Linked DNA regions of Homo sapiens: regions 2, 3, 4 and 5 are each linked to region 1. Evidence: fine-mapped expression QTL. A gene starts in region 1. Each other region holds a variant in brackets. All regions are shown on one strand. Distances are from middle to middle. Region 1 holds the start of ANKRD16 (ankyrin repeat domain 16). Region 2 overlaps FBH1 (F-box DNA helicase 1). Region 3 overlaps ANKRD16 (ankyrin repeat domain 16). Region 4 overlaps TASOR2 (transcription activation suppressor family member 2). Region 5 overlaps FBH1 (F-box DNA helicase 1).

What was found. PIP is the estimated chance that this variant, and not a neighbour inherited with it, causes the effect.
Region 2: its variant is fine-mapped to the expression of ANKRD16 in whole blood (INTERVAL, PIP 0.98). The same link has a PIP of 0.9 or more in prefrontal cortex.
Region 3: its variant is fine-mapped to the expression of ANKRD16 in whole blood (INTERVAL, PIP 0.91).
Region 4: its variant is fine-mapped to the expression of ANKRD16 in prefrontal cortex (BrainSeq, PIP 0.95).
Region 5: its variant is fine-mapped to the expression of ANKRD16 in lymphoblastoid cells (GTEx, PIP above 0.99).

The regions. Positions count from the first base shown.
Region 1 is chr10:5,887,310-5,892,309 of GRCh38, reverse strand. It overlaps ANKRD16 (ankyrin repeat domain 16), which reads left to right and starts at 2,417. Exons shown (of 8, transcript NM_019046.3): 1 at 2,417-3,269; 2 at 4,243-4,463. The coding sequence starts at 2,956. FBH1 (F-box DNA helicase 1) reads right to left here and starts at 2,067. Exons shown (of 21, transcript NM_178150.3): 1 at 1,964-2,067. The coding sequence starts at 1,964. RefSeq lists silencers at 1,635-1,684, 1,875-2,594, 2,735-2,844, 2,855-3,134.
Region 2 is chr10:5,911,933-5,916,932 of GRCh38, reverse strand. It overlaps FBH1 (F-box DNA helicase 1), which reads right to left. Exons shown (of 21, transcript NM_178150.3): 7 at 3,094-3,186; 8 at 2,664-2,755; 9 at 1,362-1,530; 10 at 477-699. Among named protein-coding and RNA genes, the nearest start is that of FBH1, 24 kb to the right of the region's middle. RefSeq lists an enhancer at 1-42. The variant T/C (reference allele first, on the strand shown) is at 2,521.
Region 3 is chr10:5,858,379-5,863,378 of GRCh38, reverse strand. It overlaps ANKRD16 (ankyrin repeat domain 16), which reads left to right. Exons shown (of 8, transcript NM_019046.3): 8 at 688-1,763. It also overlaps the pseudogene RPL12P28. Among named protein-coding and RNA genes, the nearest start is that of TRV-TAC3-1, 7.1 kb to the right of the region's middle. RefSeq lists enhancers at 193-322, 523-592, 893-942. The variant T/G (reference allele first, on the strand shown) is at 2,631.
Region 4 is chr10:5,691,018-5,696,017 of GRCh38, reverse strand. The region is part of intron 1 of TASOR2 (transcription activation suppressor family member 2); the gene reads right to left. Among named protein-coding and RNA genes, the nearest start is that of TASOR2, 8.7 kb to the right of the region's middle. RefSeq lists a silencer at 3,125-3,354. The variant C/T (reference allele first, on the strand shown) is at 2,164.
Region 5 is chr10:5,931,495-5,936,494 of GRCh38, reverse strand. FBH1 (F-box DNA helicase 1) reads right to left here. Exons shown (of 21, transcript NM_178150.3): 20 at 1-39. Among named protein-coding and RNA genes, the nearest start is that of IL15RA, 44 kb to the left of the region's middle. The variant C/T (reference allele first, on the strand shown) is at 2,478.

The DNA of each region.
Region 1 (5,000 bases):
TGGGCATGCTCAACAGCATACCCATGAAAAACAGGAGGAAAAGGAAGGGCAGCCAAGGAGCAAGTCGGTGCCAATGACGACTACATGTGACGTGACTGTAAAGGCCAGACCACAACCTCCAAAAGTCTGCACGAAAGAAATGAGCAGCCCAACCGGAAAACAGCAAGACCCAGGAAACAGCTCCATCCATTAGCTTACTGTTCAGATCCCGCCCCTCTAGACCAAGCTTTTGCCCAGAAAATCACAGGAGCTGCGGGACAGATTCACATACATTATCATTTAGTTATCCAAAGGGGGATACAGAGCAAAGAAGGTTCATAGAGAAGACACAAGAGGCAGAATCGAATGTGCAACACCAATGAAGTAACCAATTATCCTGGGTTCAAATATTCCAACCTGGCTAGGCACGGTGGCTCACGCCTGTAATCCCAGCATTTGGGAGGCCGAGCTGGGTGAATTACTTGAGGCCAGGAGTTTAAAGACCAGCCTGGCCAACATGGTGAAACCCCGTCTCTACTAAAAATACAAAAAAATTAGCCGAGCATGGTGGCACACGCCTGTAATCCCAGCTACTCGGGAGGCTGAGGCAGGAGAATTGCTTGAACCCGGGAGGGGGAGGTTGCAGTGAGCCGAGATCGTGCCACTGCACTCCACCCGGAGCAACAGAGCGAGACTCTGTCTCAAAATATATATATATATTCCAACCTACTGTGAACCCGTGTGTCCCAATTATGTTTAAAAAACAGGGAAACTAGAGACATAATGCAAGAGAAGATAGTCATCTGAAACTGGGAGAGGGGCAGGGGTAAAAGCAAAAAGCATGAAGCTACCAGATGCCTCAACTTCCAATTTGCACTAACTTCAACGGCAGCAGAACACTGCTTGGCACGCCCTACACTTTTGTGCATTTCAAACAACTTTTATGCCTTCCTTTTTTTCTTTTGCTGGAGTGACAAGGCACGACAGAACAATAACCTGAGCAAAGCTGGTACTTGGACTAGTTCTGTCTCCAGAGGCTATCCACATCACTGTTACCTTAACCAAACTCAATCTGCTCATGAGTAAAACGGACTTATCTTCATGGGCCCATTCCAGAAGTCTTTTCATTTATCTCCGCTCATTTTACCACAGCGGCAGACGCTGGCGGACACTCAACACATGCTACCATCCTGCCTTCCAGAAGACTTTATTACCTGTAATTCTGTAAGAAAGTCACTGACTTGGTTAGGCCTCCACTTCCCCACCTGTAAAACCCTACTGATGCCTCATAGGGTTGTCTTCGGACCACAGACTGCAATAAAAAATGTAAACGGCACTCGTTTTTAGGCCTGGCAAATAGGAGCTACTCCCATTCTACTCCCTAAAGGAATCGAAAACATGGAGAGGTTAAGTGACTGGCACCTAATCAGATCGGGTAAGGAACCCAACACCTACTGATCTCTTCCATCACCCACAGCCTGCCCAGCTCTCGCCGTGCCCTCCACCAGCGCCAGGCCTCCCACATCGCCTTAGGCTTCCCATGCTCAGAGGAGGGGCAGAGAAGCTACCGATGACACAGGGGCAGAGGGCAGCGAAAAATGACTTGCCCAAGGTCAAAACGTCAGAGTAGACGGGAAAGCCTGGCCTCCTAGCAGCCGAGGCCACGTCCCCGCGCTTGCCCCTTCAGCCCCGAGGACCCACACGCTGCGCCTTCCTGGCCTCGGGGGGCAGCGCGGGGGCCGCTCCCGACCGAGTTCAGTGAGCGCCCTGGCCTCCCCCGCGCACCCCCGCCGCGCCCTCCACCTGCCCACGGCCCGGACGGCCGAGCCCCCACGCCCGCGCTTGCCCGAGCCCAGCCTCGCGCCCCCGGGGCCCCCGCTGCCCCACCCCGGGCCCGGACCCCCCGCGCAGGACCCCGGAGGTTAAGTTTTCCACACGGCGGAGCCCCTCCCACACTCCCTGCCACGTCTGCGGCCTCACGCACTGTGGCGCTCCGGACCCGGACCCCGCTGCCGCCGCCGCCGGGCCCGCGCCGCCGGCCGCTCAGCCCAGCGTCCCCCGGCAGCGAGCTCCTCCTCTGGCCGGGACCTGGAGCCCGAGACGCCCGCCGACTTCCTCCGCGAGCTCCGCCCCGCCGCAGCCCCGGGAAGCGCCCGCCGCCGGAGCCGGACTGACGGCCCCCGCGACCAATCGGGACGCGAGACCGGAGGGGGCGTGCTGACGGACGGCCACTAACGCCAATCGAAATGCGCAATCGGTGGGGGCGCGGCCACAGCTACCGGGCCACGCCCCATCCGCGCTTCCGCTCGGGCCGGGGCGGAGCGGGAAACTTTCCCAGAGTTCCTTCGAGCTCCCCGAGTCCCCGCGGAGCAGCGGCGGTCGAGGGGCGGGGACGGGGGCGGAGCCCAGGAACGCCGGCCCCCAGGGGCTGGAGGCTGGGGCGGCCCTGAGGACGCGTGCGGGGCAGGTCACGCTTGGGCCTGGCTGCCTCAGGAGCCACCCTGCACGGCGCCGGGCGAGGCTGTGCGCGCCCTCCCGGACCCTCCACTTTGGGGCTTTGCGGTGTAGCGGCGCGCCCCACTCCCTTACGTGTTCAGTCCCGAATCACGTACGGGCCGCTGCAGCTCCAGGACGGCGGACGCCAGCGCTCTCGGATCCCCAGGCCCCTCCGTGCTCATCCCGGACCGCTCCGTCCCTGAGGAAAAACCGCCCCGTGCCCGGAACCGCGGCTTCTCCCACGCGGGGCAGGCCGGGGCTGTGAGGGGGCAGCCCGCCTGCGGACTAGGCCGGGGGTTTGAGGAGGCGGCTCTGCCGGGGACAAAGCCGGGGGCGTGAGGGGCGGTTCTGCCGGGTTCGGGGCGCGCGGGGCAGGTTGCGTGAAGAGGCGGAAAGTCCCACTCGCCCTCGGCTTCTCCCTGCCCGGCCGCCGGTGTCCCGCCCGCCGCCTCCCCGCGCAGCCCGGCCCGACCCGCGGCGATGGCCCAGCCCGGGGACCCGCGGCGCCTCTGCAGGCTGGTGCAGGAGGGCCGGCTGCGCGCCCTGAAGGAGGAGCTGCAGGCGGCCGGGGGCTGCCCGGGGCCGGCCGGGGATACCCTCCTGCACTGCGCCGCGCGCCACGGGCATCGGGACGTGCTGGCCTATCTGGCCGAGGCCTGGGGCATGGACATCGAGGCCACCAACCGAGACTACAAGCGGCCTCTGCACGAGGCGGCCTCCATGGGCCACCGAGACTGCGTGCGCTACCTGCTGGGCCGGGGGGCAGCGGTCGACTGCCTGAAGAAGGCCGACTGGTAGGTGTGGAGCGGAAAGACACCCCGCCTCCCCTCTACTCGCAGAGTCGTAGCGAGTTCCCTGTGCTTCTCCGTCCCCTTGGACACCGTAGCTGTTCTCAGCTCCTAGTTCTCACCCCAGGCCTGCTCAGCGGCAGGGACCTCCTGCCCAACTTTCCCTTATAACGCAGATGACCTGCAGAGTCCCTCGTTCCTGCCCTTGTGGGTTAACTGGTCGGGGCAGTCACCTCCCTTTCTAGAGCACGGAATAGTGTAGAATATAACCAAAGAGAATGTTACCAAACAATGAAGTGTGTGCACTATACAGATAGCCTCCGGATGCGATGTTCTGGGGACATTTAGCTAAGTTACTTCTGCACCAATGCATTGTTTCAAGTGGCATTGCTCCAATCAATATCCAGAATTCCTGAGTTATACACGCGCTCGTGTGTGTAGAGCACAGTGCAGTTGTATCACATACGTGCAGCCTTGCATAACCACCACAGTCAGAGATACTCTGCTCCACCATCACACAAGCCAATTGCATTTCGTTTGTTAGATTGACACTGATTTTAGTACTCACTAGGTCAGGTTCGTTAGAGGGCGTGAACATCTTTAGGAACATAGGGAAGTACATCTTCCCCACTGGGGCAGGGGAATAGACTTCGTTATGTGTTGAGGGTTGTCTGTGGGTTTTCTTAGCTCTGCTCCAATTCACTGCTATCCTGTGAACTAGCTTATAAGCTGCTTTGTCTCCCAGGCACCCTCTCCTCTAGGTACACGTTCGTTACAATCATTTTCCCCTTATTATTTCTCCCAGGGTCCTCACAGAAGGCACAGAGGTTGCCGGTCAAAGCTGTTTTCCTGCCTGCCAGACCCCTGAATCCTCTAGGTTTTCCATCTGTGCCAAGGATGTGTGTGTTTTGAAGACCTGGCCCCTGGCTTCTAATGTCTCAGCTGCCTCCATCTGACAGCTTCTCCTGGTTGGCCTTAGGACTCCTCTGATGATGGCCTGCACAAGGAAGAACCTGGGGGTGATCCAGGAGCTGGTGGAACATGGCGCCAATCCACTCCTGAAGAACAAAGATGGCTGGAACAGTTTCCACATTGCCAGTCGAGAAGGCGACCCTCTGATCCTCCAGTACCTGCTCACTGTTTGCCCAGGTGCCTGGAAGACAGAGAGCAAAATTAGAAGGACTCCTCTGCATACTGCAGGTACAGCCTACAGCTCTGCAGGTGAGCAGTACACACATGTGGCTGCTTCACCCAGCACTGCCCAACCGCATCTTGTTCAGGTCACCTTCAGGGGAAAGGAGGATTTTGGAAAACAGAAGGCAGAGAATAAGAACATCTGGGGGGGAGGGGGTGGGGGCGGGGGCGCGGGTGCAGTGGCTCACGCCTGTAATCCCAGCACTTTGGGAGGCCGGAGGCGGGTGGATCACCTGAGGTCAGGCGTTCAAGACCAGCCTGGCCAACATGGTGAAACGCCGTCTCTACTAAAAATACAAAAAATTAGCCGGGCGTGGTGGCGGCTGCTTGTAATCCCAGCTACTGGGGAGCTCCAGAGTCTGAGGCAGGAGAATGGCTTGAACCCAGGAGGCAGAGGTTGTACTAAGCCAAGATTGCACTACATTACACTACAGCCTGGGCAACAAGAGCAAAACTCCATCTCAAAAAAAAAAAAAAAGCATCTAGGGGCCTTTTGGCATATAATCAATTTCTAAAGTTAACATAACTTGGCTAGCATGCTGT
Region 2 (5,000 bases), 25 kb before region 1:
CATGTCTGCCTTCTCTGTTAAATGGGAGGACTATTCCGAGGCTTAAGTGAGATGGTCACCAGTGTCCTTCACAGGAGAAAATACCCAACAATTCACAGCCATCACCATGGGCCTACAGCCTCACCCTCCCACCTTCAACCTCCTATGACCAGGTCTGAAGAAATGAAAGAAGAAATAATGCTGTCCCACACTCCCTGTTTGCCCATCCTCAGATCCCTAACACTTCCCGTTCCCCCATCCTCAGATCCCTAACACTTCCCCTGATCCCCCATCCTCAGACCCCTAACACTTCCCATTTCCCCATCCTCAGATCCCTAACACTTCCCGTTTCCCCATCCTCAGACCCCTAACACTTCCCCTGTTTCCCCATCCTCAGACCCCTAACACTTCCCCTGTTTCCCCATCCTCAGATCCCTAACACTTCCCCTGTTCCCCCATCCTCAGATCCCTAACACTTCAGACACTTAGACACTCACCAGTTTTTCACTCTGCTCAACCATGACTCTCTGTCCTTGGCTGTTCTTACACCAAATAGGCACGTGATCAATGGTCAGCTCTTCGTCAGCCGAGGCAAAGAAGTTTTCTAGAGTCTTACACACAAGCTTGGCTCTTATGAATCCACCCTTCCCTTCAGCAAGGACGGAGTTGACCATGAAGGGTGTTAACTTGAAGAGATTCAACTTCTTCTTTGACTGGTACCTGCAATACCCATCCCAAATGAACAGCACGTGGCTCTCCTGGCTTGGTGCTATTGAACGTCCCCTCCATTCTCTCTAATGTCACCAGGAGGTAGCTTCAAGTGCCACACACAGGCGAGTGTTAATGTTTTAAAGCGAAAAAGTTCTGCATGGTCCATGTCTGACTGGAAATGGCTTTCAGGACTCACATGTACCAACCCAGAATAGGAACCAGCTTTCGGCAGACACTGCTATTCCACCATGAAGCTGGGCTCCAGAAGGTCCCCGGAGGGACCCTTGGAGTTCCCTGATGCCTCTACATCCAGGAGACCTGGGTCAAGTGTGCCTCGGCTGAGTCTTCCTCACTCCCTTCCAAGAAAAGCCTACAACTGATCAGGATTTGTGAGACTCTGAACTTTAAGCAAGTCATTTTGACTTTCTGTGCCTCACTTCCATGAGAACACCCCTCTTGGCAAGACGGCATTATATGTAAACAATATGTTGCTACAGGATAAAAGTACAAATGGCTAAACCTATGTATTTGTTTCCTGCCTGTAAGTGGAGATAACAGCACTACACTCCTCGGGGTCACTGTGGTGTAAGCTCACATGTGATCGTCACGGGAAAACAGTAAGACGCGACCGTGCCAGCAGCAACAGTGCCACTAGTGACAGCAGTACTCACTTCCGCCCTATGTGCCCGTAGGCCATGGAGTGGAAGGTTTTGCAGATGACGTTGCTGGGGAAGACGCGTTCGGCCTGCTTTGCGATGCTCTTGTTGAATGTCACATACAGAAACCTGCTCTGAGACCACTTCTCTGCATACTTGACCAGCGTTGAGGTCTTCCCAGTGCCTGGGGAAGCCAGGAGGAAAGGAGGTGACCCTCTGACCAGACAAGACATGCCCAGGGATCCCCAATCAGGCCTTGTCCAGGCTTATCACACCTCTGTCTTGAGAGCAGGACAGTAACAAGTTTTTCAGTGCTGGTAAAAGTAGTGCCACCAAAAGAGCAGCAGATTCAAAGCCAGGTGAAGGTGGGCTGGGATCTCAGCTGGGGCAGGCTCCAGCCGAGGGGCAAAGGACAGGTGGACCCCTTGACCTCATGAGCTTCAGTTTGCTTCTCAGAAATAAGTGGGTATCCATTAGAGGTAGGGTTCCCGAGGGCAAAAAGGACCCCTCAGGATAGGAGGGTAGGGTTAGGGAGGGGGAAGGCATGTCTCTGGAGAGAGACAGGTCCAGCTTTGAATTCCACCTCCACCACCTATCCACTTATTCAACCCCGGGCAAGGCTCTCTGTGCTTCAGTTTCTTCCTCTATAAAACAAGAATAACTAAGCAACCTTACGGAATGCTATCAGGATCAGCACAATGCCAAGCACACTGCAGGCATTCAAAATGTTGTTGTTGTTGTTAGCAGGGTATTTAGCCACAAAAGGAGCAGGAAGGGATTACAGGCAGAAAAAAAATAGCAAATAGCACGAGCAAAGGCTGTGATGAAAGAGTAACCAAGTACTTCAGGAGGCTGTGAGTGGATCGGCGTGGCTGACTGAGGCAGGACACTTGTAGATAATATATTTATGAATGTAAGTTAAAAGCCAATCTAAGGCAGGCCCTCTAGACATCACCCTATAAAACTGGGGAGCTCCTGAAACCCTGGGCTGGGGATTAACATGCCCTCCCTCTCCAGAAGCAATCAGTGCCTGAGCAAACATCACAATGCTGGGCTCAATCCCGGGGGCATCTGCCCGACCAACTAACTGCTGTGAACTACCTGTCTCAACAGGAATTCTGTGGATGTTCATGGAGTGGTCCGGGGAAGTAAGTATTCCTTGGCCAATTGCTTT[T/C]GAGATTGATTATTTGATCTGTTATTGAATTATTAGTTGGATGACAGATCAGAGCAAAGATGCCCTGGCAGGTAGCGGGAAGGGGATGTAGGGAGAAAAGGCAGAAAACCACCACCTCGTGAACCTGATGTGGGCTCCCTTACCGGCAAAGGCCATAATTTTCACCACCTGGAGAGGTTCCATCTTGTGATTCAGAATCAGCTGTTGTTCATGTGTAAGTTGGATGGTTTTCTTGCTATAATCATTACAAAAGAGAAGTAAGAAAAACAGAAAGACGTGAAAAGTCCAGGGGATAGACAGTCCAAAAACCAAACATACAAACTGGATAAACAAAAGCTGACCAAAAAAAAGGCCTCCCCTTACGAGAATAAACATGTTCTAAAGCTAGATTATGATGCTGATGCACAGCTCAGGCAATGTCACTGAATCACACTCTTAGGATGGGTGAGTTTTACACAATTTACATTATTAACCTCAATGATGTTGCTAAAGTGAAGCAAAACATCTCCCTCCTTAAGTATGAGGAAGAGTCGACAGAAGACAAAACACACGCTGACGCACATATACACATACCCTGGCCAGACAGATGGCTCCTCTTTAACTTTTGTGGCCTGAGTGCAGGAATTCTCCTGAAGATATAGGCAATAGAAAATGTTGTAGTGAATCCTACCAGAAAAAAAAGTAGATTTAGAAAGTCTCAAATTCAAGTCACAATCTGCATCTTATTTTTCCTCAGATGGATTTAAACTCCTTCCCATTTCTAAAAAGAAAATACCTACCACCATTTAATGGAAAAAAGAAAGAAAAGGATTTAAATATATCTATGGCTGGCAAAGCATTCTCAGATAACACAGTCCTGGGAAAGGTGTAGTTTCTATGTATATCTCCAAGAGGAGGAAGAGACCAGGACGGGCTCTTCAGGGAATGAGGGGCGCCAGCTGTGACTTGAAGAGACAAACAACCTGAAAAACTGTAAGGACCAGTGGAAGGCAAAGGGAAACACTGCTCCTAGCACTGAGACTCTTGTTTGAATGATACTTACTACACCTGTGGATAAAACACCAGCCTCTTTCTGAGCCTCGGTCGCTCCACTGTCTACCTCTTATGACATGACATTGCTTTAGACGCATGAACACATTCTATCTTTTAAGGTCCCAAGAAAAGGGACTACACTATGGATAACAAGATCTGACTACTAAGGACCTGAAAACAGTAGGCTCCAAGTCACCAAGAGGGACCAAAGATGACAAAGTTCAATCAGCAGAGGCACAGGACATCGTCAGACTCGTCAGACTCAGCTGGCACACGCCGTTCCAAAGCCTCTCCAAGTCTCCCCTGGACTGTGGGGGAGACCGGGGGTGAGCTTGGACTCGCTCCCCCAACAATCGAGTGCACTGCCCCCCATCCCCAGAGCGAAAAGAGCCCATCTCCAAGCCTCGACCTCTCCAATGCAACAAATACCTTTAATAATCCAACATTTCAGATGTGATTATATTATCTCCCAGAAAAAACAGGAAGAAACAAAGAAACGCAACAAAAATCAACATACATACTGCCATGGACTGAAGTGTGTCCCTTGAAATTCCTGTGTTGAAGCGCTACCCCAATGTGGTGTGTGGAATAAGGAAGTAGTTAATGTTAGGTGAGAGTACAAGGGCAGGGCCCTGATACACAAGAATTGGGGTCCTCCTAAGAGGAGACGCCAGTGTTCTCTCCACCCTGTGGGGATGCGGCAAGAAGGCAGCCATCAGCAAACTCTTGGACATTTCTGGGGAATCCTGTCCCCTCCTGGTACCTTGCCACCGATGCCTGGCCACCACTCACTCCCCTGGTGCCACTAGCCACCTTCCTTTAAGGGCTTGCAACTTCCAGGGGCCAGTCTCCCTGGGGAAGGGACCCCCCTCCCCCGGCCCCCAGCCCCCACGGTCTCTGCTTCTCCAGGATGGCTGCACAGTTGATCTACCTGTCCCCATCACTCCAGCTCAGGGACAAGGCCCTTCCCAGCTGCCCAGCAAACCCTGAGTTTTATTCTACATTTTTTTTTTTTTTTTAGACAGAGCCTCACTCTGTTGCCCAGGCTGGAGTACAGTGGCATATCTCGGCTCACTGCAGCCTCTGCCTCCTGGGTTCAAGTAATTTTCATGCCTCAGCTTCCCGAGTAGCTGGGATTAGAGACACGCACCACCAGAAATTTCTGGCTAATTTTTGTATTTTTAATAGAGATGGGGTTTCCCCTTGTTGGCCAGGCTGGTCTCCAGCTCCTGGCCTCAAGCGAACTGCCCGCCTCGCCTCCCAAAGTGCTGGATTACAGGTGTGAGCCACCAAGCCTGGCCTTATTCTACCTTCTAATCGGGGCCTGTAAGATCCCTCAACTGTCCCTGTCCATCCTTCACAATCTTGTGTTCCCTCCCACCCTTGCCACACTGCACTTTTTCTCTTCCTCACATGTCCCAAATTCATTCCCATCTTCAGGCCCTTAA
Region 3 (5,000 bases), 29 kb after region 1:
CATTTGACCCAGGAAGTCCAGCTGGCTTCACCTCTCAGTATGAACCTTTAATATGAGCTCTGCCCTCTAACTTTGTGAGCGTACAGCACAGTAACATTCACCTCAGGCCCAGTGCTGCCCACCCATCTGGAGGACTGATTCTTCTGGCACAGGGGAAACTTGATCTGAATTGAGAGCAGCTCCCCCTTCCCTCTCCTGTGGGATCTGCATGTCTCCCAAGTTCCACAGTAATGCTGGTGTGGACACTGCGTTGGGGAGGCCTCGTGTTGAAAGCCCATGGAGTCAGGGACGTGGCAGGATCACTGGCTGTATAGCAGCAGCTGAGGGTCCCTGTCCTGCAGTTTTCTCCACCACAGTCAGCTGCTCCGGGACAGTAGGTGGAAAGTCAGAATTCACTAAGATGGGGACTTTTCCAGGCAAACAGAGCAGAAGGGTCATTTAGCACAGTGTCTGGTACAGGGGAAATGCCCAAAACACACAGCTTGTTACTATCTAGCGCCAGCCTCCCCTTCCCTTCTCCCTTCCAACTGCGCATGGGACTCTCCCTCTCTGACTGTGCAGCATGTAGAGCCAGGCCCTGTAGCCAGCAGCCCTGAGTCCAGCTGTGGGACCTTGTGCTAGCTGCTTGCCCTCTCTGAGCTTCTGTTTCATCTGTAAACTGAGATGATAATAACTCTTTCTTCACAGAGTTGCTGGGAGCCTGAGCACCTTTCGTTTTTCGGCTCAGAGAAAGCCAAGTGCAACTTGCTTCAGTCATCCTGAACCTGAGTTCAACCAACCGCAGCCACCTACGTTTGACCCCAGCGAGATCAAAGTTGTATATCTGAGGTGTACCAGTGGTGAAGTCAGTGCCACATCTGCACTGGCCCCCAAGGTCAGCTCCCTGGGTCTGTCTCCAAAAATGGTTGCTGATGACATCACCAACCATTGACTGGAAGAGTCTGAGGATGATAGTGAAACTGACCAGCCACAGCAGACAGGCCCAGATTGAGGTGGTGCCTTCTGCCTCTGCCCTGATCGTCACAACCCTCAGGAACCACCGACAGAAAGAAAGAAACACAAAAACATGAAACACAGTGGTAGCACCACTTCTGATGAGATTGTCAACATTGCCTAACAGATGCAGCAGCAGTCTTTAGCCAGAGAACTCTCTGGAACCATTAAAGAATTCCTGGGGGCCGGTTGCGGTGGCTCATGCCTGTAATCCCAGCACTTTGGGAGGCCGAGGCGGGAGGATCATGAGGTCAGGAGATCGAGACCATCCTGGCTAACGTGGTGAAACCCCGTCTCTTACTAAAAATACAAAAAAATTAGCCAGGCATGGTGGTGGGCGCCTGTAGTCCCAGCTACTCAGGAGGCTGAGGCAGGAGAATGCTGTGAACCCTGGAGGCAGAGCTTGCAGTGAGCCGAATATGCGCCACTGCACTCCAGCCTGGGCAACAGAGCAAGACTCCGTCTCCAAAAAAAAAAAAAAAAAAAAAGAATTCCTGGGGCCTGCCCAGTCTGTGAGCTGCCATGTTGATAGTATCACAGATGATACCAACAGTGAAGCTGTGGAATGCCCAGCTAGTTAAAGAATGCAAAGGAAAATATTTTCACAAAGGGTTATCTGATAACCAAAAAAAAAAAAGACATTTCATCTAAGCCACTTAACACCGTGTCTGATGTGTAGTAAATAATAAATGTCAATGATTCTCAAAGAACCCAGGAATAGAAAAAGCATTTAATAAAAATTAGCTCTTGGCATAATCTCTTCATCCACACCCAGCAGAGTCGTCAGATGTCTTCCAGGTTCACAAGAATTAATTTCTCCGCCCCTGTTCCTGCTTTGCACTTTGTAGCAATTATCCCATGGTTCGCCTTATGTTAGAACTATTTATATAAGTGGTAGTCAAGGCCACTGAGTCATGCATCCCTGGAGGTCAGTTACTATTTCTTTTTATGAGTCAGAGTCACTCTGCCGCCCAGGCTGGAGTGCAGTGGTACGATCTCGGCTCACTGCAACCTCCGCCCCCTGGGTTCAAGTGATTTTTCTGCCTCAGCCTCCCAAGTAGCTGGGATTACAGGCTCCCACCACCGTGCGCGGCTAATTTTTGTATTTTTAGTAGAGACAGGGTTTCATCATGTTGGCCAGGCTGGTCTCAAACTCCTGACCTCAGGTGATCCAACCGTCTCAGCCTCCCAAAGTGCTGGGATTACAGGCGTGAGCCACCGCACCCCGCCTGGGTCAGTTACTGTATCTTACGCACCTTACAAACCCCAGAAGGCTGCACACAGCTCCTGCACATGGTATGCCTTCAAGGAATTACCCATGGATTTGAATAAGGTTATATATGATGTAACACTCATGCGCTTTATTTCATTTTTAATGAGTTTATATTCTAAAATATTTGCTTCTGGGGAAAAATAATTCAGACAGTACAAATAAAGATTATTCCAAATAGGATCATATAACACTCTTGCAACTTTAAACTGAGTGCATTGTTTCTCATTAGTTCTTTTTGTTTTGTTATTTTCATTTTCTCATTAGTTCTTAAAGATCTACCTCATTCTTTTTAACTTTGCATAATGTTGCATTCTTTCTGACATTCCATCTTTCAGATGTGCCACAATTTGTCTAAGCTGTTCCC[T/G]ATTTCTGGACATTTTAGGACATTCTGGGGTTGTTTAAGTTATTATAAACAGCAGTGCCGGACACATCTTTGTGTCCTTATGGGAATGACTGGAAGATAAATTCCTAGAAGCGGATCAAAGGATCTGTCCATTTTTTTAGGTTGCCAACTGTATCAGCTACAGTTCAGTTAGCAGAGACTAGCGTTCATTGGAGCCAGCTTATGCAGAAGATTTGTTACGGGGTCCTGATGGTATGCAGAATTGTCAGGAAGGCTCGAGAACAAATCTCGTTGAACTTTCAGGGACGATATCAAGGGCTGTACTTCAGACCTAGGCCTCAAAAAGAAGTGCCTTTTCAATCAGGAAAATCTTTGCCAGTATAGGAAGCTGCTGCCTTCGCTTCCAACTCCAGAAGCTTGCTGTCTTCATCTGCTACAGTCGAGAGGCCAAATGATCAGAAAACACTCCACAGAAAATCACTTGCAGCCTTTGCCAGTGGAAGCAGAAATACGGCTTTCGCTTCTGCTTTCCGAAACTCAAGCAATTAGCAGAATCCAACTCACATCTCAAAATCTGGACCTAGGGGAGCCTGGGGCATGTAGCTGGTAACTTCCCTGTGTCTGCAGTGTGGGGCTCACATGCCCAGGAGGCTGGGATGGGTCTTGAGCACCACAGACATCGCTTTTGCCAAGATTCCTTCCCAGGCATACCCATCACCAAAGCTGTGTGGTATCGCACTTTTTTTTTTTTTTTGAGACGGCGTCTCACTCTCGCCCAGGCTGGAGTGCAGTGGCACAATCTCAGCTCACTGCAACCTCCATCACCTGGGTTCAAGCGATTCTCCTGCCTCAGCCTCCCAAGTAGCTAGGATTATAGGCGCACACCACCACTTCCAGCTAATTTTTGTATTTTAGTAGAGATGGGGTTTCACCATGTTGGCCAGGCTGGTCTCAAACTCCTGACCTCAGGTGATCCACCAGCCTCGGCCTCCCAAAGTGCTGGGATTACAGGCGTGAGCCACTGCGCCTGGCCACGGTATCACACTTTTAATGGCCACTAACATGATGTACTATCTCATGATTTTAATTTTGCATTTCTTTTTTTTTTTTTTTTTAAAGACAGGGTCCTGTTCTGTTGCCCAGACTGGAGTGCAGTGGTGTGACCATAGCTCACTGCAGCCTTGACCTCCTAGGCTCAAGCAACCTCGACCTCCTAGGCTCAAGCAATCCTCCCTTCTCAGCCTCCTGAGCAGCTGGGACCACAAGCACGCACCAGCTCGCCCAGCTAATTTTTAAAATTTATGTAGAGATTCCACTTTTATAGGGGGGTCTCACTGTGTTGGCCAGGCTGGTCTCGAACTCCTGGCCTTAAGCAGTCCTTTCACCTTGGCCTCCAAAAGTGTTGGGATTACAGGCATAAGCCACCACACCCGGCCTTGGCATTTCTCAATCAGATTGAAGATCTTTAGATTTGTTTTTTTGGCCATTATAGCCCTTTTTCCTATTTTTACCTGTATCAGTTAGCTGTTACTAAATGACAGACCACCCCAAAGCTCACTGGGTTGAAACAGGAGTCTGTAGGGCATCTGGGTGGCTTTGCTGCTCGCAACTGGGCTCACTCCTGCGTCCCGTCAGCCAGTGAGTTGCTGAGCTGGTATAGGATGGCCTTGGGTGGATCAAGCTGGCTCTGCTCCCCATGGTCTCTCCATTCGGCTAGCCCAGGCTTATTTTTCATGACAGTGGCAGAGATTCAAGAGAGAAAAGAGACTTAAATGTGCTTTCCAGTCTCCGCTCTGTTTGTGTAGATGCTTCCATCCCATTGGCCAAAGCAAGGCATGGTCATGCCCAGAATTAGTGTAGGGGGCAGAACCCACAGACTGGACACAGAGGCCATTGATTGGGGCCATTAATGAAACCAGTTCTTGCTTCATCTTTTGACCATTGTTTTGTCTTGTTGATTTGTAAGAGTCATTTTTATATTGGGTAAATTAGCTCTACACATAATTTCAAATAATGACAAAATTTGGGTTATACATTTACAAGTAAAAAAAAAAACAGACTACAGCACAGCAGAAATAATCTCCTTTATAGCTCCTTTAAAAAAAAAGAGCTCTTGTGAGTAGATACAGGCATACACAGGCACTCACTACAATGCTGGGAGTGGGATGGCACAGATTCCTTGGATATGATAGGGTGTTTCTATTTAGATTACAGTATGTGGTACCTTTAAAGCAGCTCTCAGAGTTCTAGAGCTTCCACCTGTGCCAGCCTACAACATGCATGGTCTTTATTTTTCCCAGTGTTGCTGAAAATCCACGATTAGCTAAAAGGTAAATGAACGCAAAAGACGTAGGAACAAAATCCAGCTTGTGGCTCGTCCTGTCCCTTGAA
Region 4 (5,000 bases), 200 kb after region 1:
CCGTCAAGGTAGAGGAGAGAGTAGTTGTCTGGGTGTGTGGGAGTGGAGAAGGGGTTCCAGGGTATCAAAATGATAAAGACCATCAACCAACCCTTCTATTCCCACCCCATCCTGTAATTCTTGACTTCAGAAGTCCTGTACTTGATACCCCCAATTCCTAAAACTTTTCCAGATTCTGTGGAAAGAATCTGCTTGCTCCTTGCTGGGTTACCTCTCTTCAGCTTTCAGCATTCTCTAATTCATGAAATCATTTATTACTTGCCCATCTCCTTTCTAGTTTCCCAAATACTGATTTCAGCTATATCTTCCTCTCACCTCCTCTTGATCTTTGTGGATTTATATCCTTATTCTTTTACTATAATCTTAAGAGAGACTTCCAAAGAGTGTATACAATTGAACATGTTAGACTAAAAGTGTCTACTTAACCTGTCTTAATTTCTACCATTAAAAAATGATGCAGCTACCTCCTACAATGGTAGCTACTATTGCCATTATTTTATATTTTGTGTAATTATGAAGACCTCATTTTACTAATGCACCCACCACAGCCCTAATTACACACCAAATCAATACATACTAATTTAAATAATTAGCTGTTAGTGTATATGTATGTACTCAATAGTCATTTACTCAAATGCATAAAAAGCACAATCTAAAGATCTTCAATGATATTATCTCAAAGCATCCTGTCCTTTTCTTGCATGATTTATAATTACATATGTGTAGTTTCTTCATTAATGTCATTTTCCTTAATGAGCCAAGCAATATCACGGCAGGAACCATATCTGTTTTGTTTACTACTGATTACTCAGCATCCAGTCCAATTCCTAGCACATAGTGTTTAGTAAATATGAATTTGGTAACTGAAGAATAAATAATACTTGGCTATTTAATCTGTTCCGAAACTCAGAAAAAGAAATGAAACTTCTCAATTGTTTTTACAAAGCAATCAGATGCGAATACCAAAACTAGACAAAACACATTAAAAAACAACAACTATAGACTGATCTCTTATGAATATTGATATAAAAATCCTAAATATATGCATTGGCAAAGTAAATCCATCAGGACATTAAAATAATAACAGATCAATTAGGGCTCATTCCAAGATGCAAAAATGGTTCAATAAATAGTAAATCCATAAATTTAACCATACTAATAGGTCAAAATAAAAAACCACAAAGGGGCAGCTGGGGTCTGGGATGGGGGTAGGAGAGCCACATGTCAGACTGTCAAAAGGAAGTTACTATATAACGTTCACCAGATGCTTTGTAACATGCAAATTTTTGTTGCTGCACAGTATTTCTTCATTTATGCATGCTATTTTTTACCATACTTAATCCAAAAACAAATTAAGATGCCCCCAAAGAAAACTATTTAGTAACAGTGAAAAATGTCCTACCATAAATTATTCAGGAGAAAGTTCCAAAAGAAGTATATGTGTAATATACCATATCTTAAAGAATATAAACCACAATTTAAACAATGGTCATCTTCTGCACACTTATCAATATCTGGTATTTTTTCTTGTTTATCTGATTGTCCTCCAACCACTAGATTAGTTTCATGAATACAGGGCTTTGTCCTTTTCATTGTTGTATGCCAGTGCTCAGAACAGTGCCTGTTATACAGTAGGGTTTCAATAAATATTTACTTAACAAATTAATCAATTAGTTTTCCAGATCACTTTATTTCTAATTAAAGCCCCTCAGTACCCTCTCACTGCCCTCAGAACACAAAACACACCCTCCTGGCCATGGACAAGTAAAATTTGGTCCCTGCCAATTTCCTATACCTCATCTTGCTCTACTTTTCCCTGACTTACTACTGAGTGGCAGCTACATGGATTTTTCTTTTTATAGCTTTTTCCTCTTTTAAGGCCTTTGTGCATGCTGTTATTTCTGACCAGAATTCTTTTTTTTTTCTCCCCATTCCTCCCATGGTTGAGCTCTTTCTGTTCCTTTAGTGACATCTATTTAAGTCATCCACTCAGATAAACCTCGGATTACCCTGCTGCAAGTGTTTTCTTTAAAGCATTAGAACATGGAATTATTATAAATTTACTTTTTGGTGGGTTGGGAGAGGTCTATTTTCCCCAGCAGAATGTAAGGTTTATAGAGGCAGGCATTGTCTGTTCACCAAAGTCCCCAGGGTCCAACAGAG[C/T]TCCTAGCACCACAGTAGATAATCAAATATTCTATGAAGTTATCTTTGGATGGGACAAGTACAGGTAGTTTTTGCTTTACTTTTTACAGCTTTATATATTATCTGAAATTTTAAATAAACATAATCTGGGTGAAATAAAGCTATTTCCACTTTGGAAAAAAGATCTCCTGTAGTCCTAAGTAGCAGCCAGTTATAGTTGTGGTTTTGTGGGGGTTCCCCCCTCCTCCAGGGATGAGGTTGCCCAGGTTGGTCTTGAACTCCTGAAGTTACAGGTTTTTTTTAAATGAAGAAAATGTAGAGAAAACAAATAGCATTTCCCGTAAGTCAAAACAGAGACCCAGAAAACAAAGTGACCCTATTAAAAGCCAAAAAATACAATTTGAGAAATACACAATTTTCACAGAAACTTAAACATTCATTAAAAAATTTCTTGCCACATACGAGTTTAAACCAAGATAATCACGGCACGCACAAAGGGAGTAAAAACTAAGGTAATAACCTGCAAATACTTGAAGCGCAAAGTCAATGTGCAATCCCTGTTCTACATTTCAAAAGATGACCTTAGCTATTGTAGGTTTACATAGGCACACACACAACTAGCACCGTCTCTCTGGCGGTTCTGCAAGGGCTCCACCACTACCACACACAATCCACTCACAATCAGGAGTGAAGTTAAGCCTTCGGGTACCATACAAAAGTGTCTTTCATCACCAGGGCTCTGCTGCGGGGCCTCACTGACCCTGCCAAAGCTTCTCTCCCCACACCCTCACCAGAAGGTAAAACGTTACTAGACAGAATAGGCCCATTTTCTCGGGTCTCCTTCGCACTCAGCGCTGTATTAACAGTCACCTCCGTGGGTGAGCCCGCCCCAGGCACAGCGGGGGTCAGAGCTTCCCACAACAGCATGTGGGAGACCTAGGCCCCTCCCCGACTCACCTCATGGTGTGTTGGGGAGGGTGGCTGTGTCTCTGCTCCGCCGGCAGCCCCTCCGGCCCCCTCCCGCCAGCCAAGGCCAGTGCGCCAGAGCGGGGAACTCCGCGCAGGGCGTGCTGAGCGTGTAGGGCGCGGGGCCGGCGGCGCCTTTTGAAAGTCAACAAGGGCGACGCCGGCTCCGCGAGCGGAGCCCAGGGGCATGGCCCTGACTCGGCGCCCACGGACCCCACAGAACGAGGGGATCCCTGCAAACCCCACTGAGCCCGTACAGCCAACAGGGCTGGGAGATCCCCGCACACTCCGTAGACCCAACGGAGCTTGTAGCGGGTAGGGACTCCACACACCAGGGAACCCTACAGAACCCGCAGGACCCCAGGACCCTGCAGACCTGGGCGGGCTCAGTCGTCAGAACGGAGCACAGGACAGCAAGCCAACTGCCCCCGAGTTCTTGGACGTCACACAGTAACCCCACTAGGAGGATGGTTTTAGTATTATTTTACAAAGCTCACTCCAAGCTCCAATTTCCTTAAGTGTCCTACCCGCAAGCCCCTAGTAAGGATATCTATCAATCTCAGGTCTAATCTAAAATACACGTTCTTTTCACTACAGTGATCTCAAGTTATTATAACTCTTCGTCCCACATCATTTATGCAGCCTCACCGGCTACAGTTTGATGCAGCTTTTTAAATTTACTATGTAGATAATAAAAAATGTATTTATACATGTCACAAAATTAAAAAGTCATAATGAATATGGCTTTTTTTTTTTTTTTGAGACAGAGTGCAGTGGCACAATCTGGGCTCACTGCAACCTCTGCCTCCTGGTTTCAAGCGATTCCCCTGCCTCAGCCTTCTGAGTAGCTGGAATTACAGGTATGGGCCGCCACGCCTAGCTAATTTTTGTATTTTTAGTAAAGGCGTTTCACCGTGTTAACCTGGCTGGTCTCAAACTCCTGACCTCAACTGATCAGCCCGCCTCTGTCTCTCTAAATGCTCAGATTACAGGCGTGAGCCAACATGCCAGGCCTGAATATGGTTTTTTAATACTTCACATAGCTTCAGGAAAATTGATACCAATGCCTGGGGTAGGGATGAGGTCCCTTCCCAATAAGCCATGCAGCCCTAACAAAATTTACGAAAAATTTAATCAAACGGAGGTGCAGGGGGAAGATGAAGTGTTTGGCCTGATCTAAGGACATCTTTACTCATTATGTTTTAACTAAGCAATCTAAGATACCCACATGCATTGCCCAGAAGAAAGCCTAATTAGTAGATCTTATTCATCATTACCATTAGTGTGTTGTATAGCATATAGGATAATTTGAACTTATAAAGCAAGTTAAATTCATAAACAATTATGTAGATTAACAAAGAGCTATTCAAAATAAAAAATTCACTAAGGTATTTAGTATATCCAGTAGGAGACAAATTACCTTTTTTAAAAACTTTTTTTTTGGAATTACACCCCTTGAGTAAAGTGTATTACACCTATGTACTATGACTTTTTCATTTAGCTGTGGCTTGCTTATTTTTGGATTTAATATTCAATTTTTGAAGATTGTTTTAACATTCTCAAAATCCAGTCTACCACAAAAAGTATTTTTGGTAATCAGGCTGATGCTTATAAACACCACAATTTTTTTCCTCCTACATTATGTAAAAACAACAACAAATTCTTTAGAGACCATACTTTTTATATTCAAGATCATATAACTTTCTTTTTTTTTTTTTTTGAGACGGAGTCTCACTCTGTCGTCAGGCTGGAGTGCAGTGGCGTGATCTCGGCTCGCTGCAATCTCTGCCTCCCAGGTTCAAGCGATTCCCCCACCTCAGCCTCCCAAGAAGCTGGGACTACAGGCATGCACCATCATGCCCGGCTAATTTTTTGTATTTTAGTAGTGACAG
Region 5 (5,000 bases), 44 kb before region 1:
TAAGACGTTGCTTGTCAGCTCTGCTTGCAAGAAGTACTCCTGAGAAAGAAAGAGCGAGAAAGAGAGTCATGGCGACACCTCCGTTAGGGTCTACTGGAAACACTGATAGCGGCGGCTCTGTGAGAACCCTTTAGATGCACTGTAAGTCCCAGAGAGAAAAACCCCGCCTAACCCGTTCTCCCTTACTTCCTCTAACTTTTCCCTGCCTCCAAAGCTATCGACAGTCCAACTGACAGTCCAATTGCTTTTTAAATATATATATATTTAACAGATAAACATGCAAAACTATTGCCTGTAATGACATTTCCAGAATATTTCTGGATTTTATTTTATGCTAAGGTATCCCCAGCTCAATCTTCAGAAAACTATTGTGTATTCACATTATAAGCCAGGCAGGCAACACAGAGGACATGAAGAAAACTTGCCCCAAACATCCCTGCGTATTTCCACCGTCCCGTGCTGCTGGCTGTGCTAGTGAGCAAATGACAGCCTCGCTAAGCCTGTGTCTTTATCCATAAATGCAGATGGCACGGTGCCTGCTTCAGGTGGCTGCTGAGGAGAAGAAACCCTTCAATGCATGCAAAGCACTCACGCCTGGCACGCAGGGAGCACCCAGAGGAAGCACTAGTGACCTCCCAGGCTGGAAACACCACAAGGACAGGGCACTGTCAGCTTCGCTGCTGCCCTGTGGGGCTCCACATCACAGACTGATATGCTAGCAGGACCGCACACATCTGCTGCCCAGGAAAGGACGGTTTCGTATTTTCTGGATTATGACCAGCTATTGATCTACTTATTCTACAATCTGTAACCTACGTTTTGATTTATTTGGTCTTTTCTCTTAGACGGCCTGCCTACCAGCTATGAAAAAGAACAGAAAACCACCAGGCAAACACTCCAGTTATGGCCAACAAGTACTAACAGCTGACGAGGTGAAATCCTGTCTGAAGTCACAGATTTTGCTGAAGTCCCTTGGACTGTCATCTCAATTTCCTTCCCGAGAGACAGCCAAGACCATGAACCTGGCGAGGTCCCTCCAACCCACGGTGAAATAGCTTCTCGTTTACACGTGTCCAAGGACACAGGTCTCCTTTTATAGATGTCTAATTTACATGAATGTTACGCTTCTGGCTTCCTCCTCACCTAGGTTTTCTAAAATGCTGTAGAGGACTCAGTCACAGCGCTCTCTTGTATTTCATTTACCCATTCCCTTGCTGTGGTTACTCGGTTGTTTCCAAACTATTTCCAACAATGCAGCAATGAACATCCTGTACCTGACTCCCTGTCCACTCCAGAAGTTTCTCCAGGGCTAGGCTCTCAAGCCGTTTTTGACGCAGTTACCATTATAATGCTATACATACGCACATATGTAAGAAACACACATGGAAGAAAAGTTTCACAAAACATGACTTAACCTAACATGCAGTGTTCTCTGATTTCTTTAGATTTTATGCCATTTAACTCTTTTTAAGCCTCTCATAACCCACCAGATTAACTGTTTTTATTTATATAAATTTAAGGGGTGGGGGTCACACCTGTAGTCCCAGCACTTTGGGAGACTGAAGTGGGAGGATCACTTGAGCCCAGGAGTTCGAGACCAGCCTGGGCAACATGGCGAAACCCTGTCTCTACCAAAAATACAAAAATTAGCTAGGCATAGTGGTGCACACCTGTAGTCTCAGCTACTCGGGAGGCTGAGGTTGCAGTGAGTTGAGATCGTGCCACTGCACTCCAGCCTGGGCAACAAAGCAAGACCCTGTATCTAAACAAATAAACAAAAAGAATCTAAGATTCTGTGAGACCAAGAAGCTGTCTTTGGCCAGACATAGTGGCTCAAGCCTGTAATCTCAGCAATTTGGGAGGCCAAGGCAAACGGATCACTTGAGGTCAGGAGTTTGAGACCAGCCCAGTCAATATGGGTGAAACCCCATCTCTACTAAAAATACAAAAATTAGCCAGGCATGGTAGCACACGCCTGTAATCCCAGCTACTCTGAGGCTGAGGCCTGAGAATCGCTTGAGCCCGGGAGGTGGAGGTTGCGGTGAGCCGAGCAAGATGGCACCACTGCACTCCAGCCTGGGCTACAGAGAGAGACTCCATCTCAAAAAAAAAAAAAAACAAAAAAAAAAACCTGTCTTTGAAACATAACTTCATGTCACTTAACACCTCAACAATGTAATAATTTCCTTCACTTTCCCAAAACTTAAAGAAACAAATGAACAAAATGGCTTCTGGTGATTCTATTAGCTATATTTTCTAAGGGGGAGGGGTCAAAGAAAAAGAAGGTTGCCCTACTCTTGGGAGATAAAGGGGCTTATCGTTCTAGGCAGCGCAGGAAGCAATGGCTCGCTTTTTATCTCCAAAACACCCCCGTCCGTGGCTCCACTATTTTTAACACGCTTTCCTAGCCTCTGAATTACTGCCCAACTCGGGATCTTCATTATCCCCATGGCCTTCCCTCCTGGGCAGAGACTGGA[C/T]TCGACACTTCTGAAACAGGATATCCCCAAATTTATTCACAGGCTGTGATCAACAACAACAAAAAAGGCTGGACATGGTGGCTCACGCCTATAATCCCAACACTTTGGGAGGCCGAGGCGAGTGGATCACTTCAAGTCAGGAGTTTGAGACCAGCCTGGCCAACATGGTGAAACCTCGTCTTTAACAAAAAAAAAATACCAAAAAAAATTAGCCAGGTATGGTGGTGTACACCTGTACTACCAGCTACTTGAGAGGCTGACACAGGAGAACAGCTTGAACCCAGGAGGCCGAGGTTGCGGTGAGCCAAGATCACACCACTGCCCTCCAGCCTGGGCGACAGAGTGAGACTCTGTTTTTTAAAAAAAAAAAAAAAACAGCAGAGTGCCTCCACTTCTAACAAGGTCTTACAGCCTTAAAAAATCTGTTCCCACAAATAGGCAGTTTTTCTGGGACTTCCTCGCAGGACCCCTGAGGGCAGACAGCCCACCCCAGTCTCAGTAATGGGGAAGTATTTCTCTAGATTCTGTATTCTTTTCTTCTATGGGGAAAACAAAATGCATGCAGCAACCAACTGACAACCTTCCAATCAGCTTTAAAAAGTCTACTTCACTTTTTTGTTTGTTTGTTTTGAGACAGAGTCTCACTTTGTTGCCCACACTGGAGTGCAGTGGCACGATTTCAGCCTACTGCAACCTCTGCCTCCCGGATTCAAGTGATTCTCCTGCCTCAGCCTCCTGAGTAGCTGGGATTACAGGCATACGCCACTACACCCAGCTAATTTTTGTATTTTTAGTAGAGACAGGGTTTCACCATGTTAGCCAGGCTGGTCTTGAACTCCTGACATCAAGTGATCCGCCCTCCTAGGCCTCCCAAAGTACTGGGATTACAGGTGTGAGCTACTGCGCCGGGCCTATTTCACTCTTATGCATACAACTGGTGGGACTCTAAAGTGATAACAATCTCCATGAAAAAATTGGCAACATCTAGAAAAGTCACACTTGGCCAGGTGCAGTGGCTCATGCCTGTAATCCTAGCACTTTGGGAGGCTAAGGCAGGGCAGATCACTTGAGCTCATGAGTTTGAGACCAGCCTGGGAAACAGACAAAACCCCGTCTCTACAAAAAATACAGAATTAGCCAGGTGTGGTGGCACACACCTGTAGTCCCAGCTGCTCGGGAGGCTGAGGTGGGAGGATGGCTTGAGCCTGGGAGGCGGAGGTTGCAGTGGGCCAAGATTGTGCCGCCATATTCCAGCCTGGGTGACAGAGCCAGGCCTTGTCTCAAAAACAAAACAAAACAAAACAACAGAAAAGTCACACTTGCATTTATCTTTACCCAGCAATTCCACTTCTAGAAATGCATGCTGAAGATGCACTGGCAAAAACAGAAATGACCTGTGCACAAGATTGTGCAATGCAGCATTATTAATGAAAGCAAAAGGCTGGAAGTGACCACGTCCATGAGCGAGAACGGCATAAATCACAGTGCGTCAACACAGAACACTATGCAGCTGACCAAGAGGCGAGAGAGCTCTGTGAGCTGATAAAGAGGGATTTCCTAATTTGGGTAGGACAACAAATAAAAGAATAAAAGGGCAAAAAATAAAAGAGTAAAAAATAAATAAAAGAGTGATTCCCATGGCTTCTAAGTGACAAAGCAAAGTACACAACAGTGTATCTGAAATGCTACCTTCTGTGGAAAAGGAGAATATGAAAATACCTACGAATTTGCTAATACTTGCATAAAGAAATACTGAAGGATTAATCGCTAATTGTTTAAAATAACTACCAATGGTGGAGGCAGAGAACAGTCTGAAGTGAACAGGGAGGTAATGAGACTTCTCTTATCACAAAGTTTTGATCTTTTCTTTTGAGACAGGGTCTCACTCTGTCACCCAGGCTGGAGTGCAGTGGCACAATCTCAGCTCACTGCAATCTCCGCCTCCTGGGTTCACGCGATTCTCCCACCTCAGCCTCCTAAGTAGCTGGGGCTACAGGTATGCACCACCATGACTAGCTAATTTTTCTGTATTTTTTGGTAGAGACAGGGTTTTGCCATGTTGGCCAGGCTGATCTCTAACTCCTGACTTAAAGTGACCTGTCTGCCTCAGCCCCGCAAAGTGCTGGGATTACAGGGGTGAGCCACTGTGCCCAGGCGCAAGGTTTTGACTTTGAAAACATTAACAGGCCTTACACATCAAGAAAGATCATTAAATCAAAAAGAAGCAAAGCAACCCCTGTAGGTATTATGAATAAACTACATGTCTAACTGCAAATTAAGTTGGTAATAAAACCACAAAAGCAAAAAGGACTTACTTTAAGTGACTTCAGAACATGATATTTTGACTAATAAATACATCATTCATGGAGAAATGGAGCTGTTAGGAAATCTTCAAGTCCAGTCAGTATTCCATTAATACTGGCATTATTTTGAATATTATTTTTAAATACATAGAATAGTATCAATAAGTAATAAATACTATTAGGAACCAAGATTTCAGTGTATGAGAAAAGATTCAAGTGT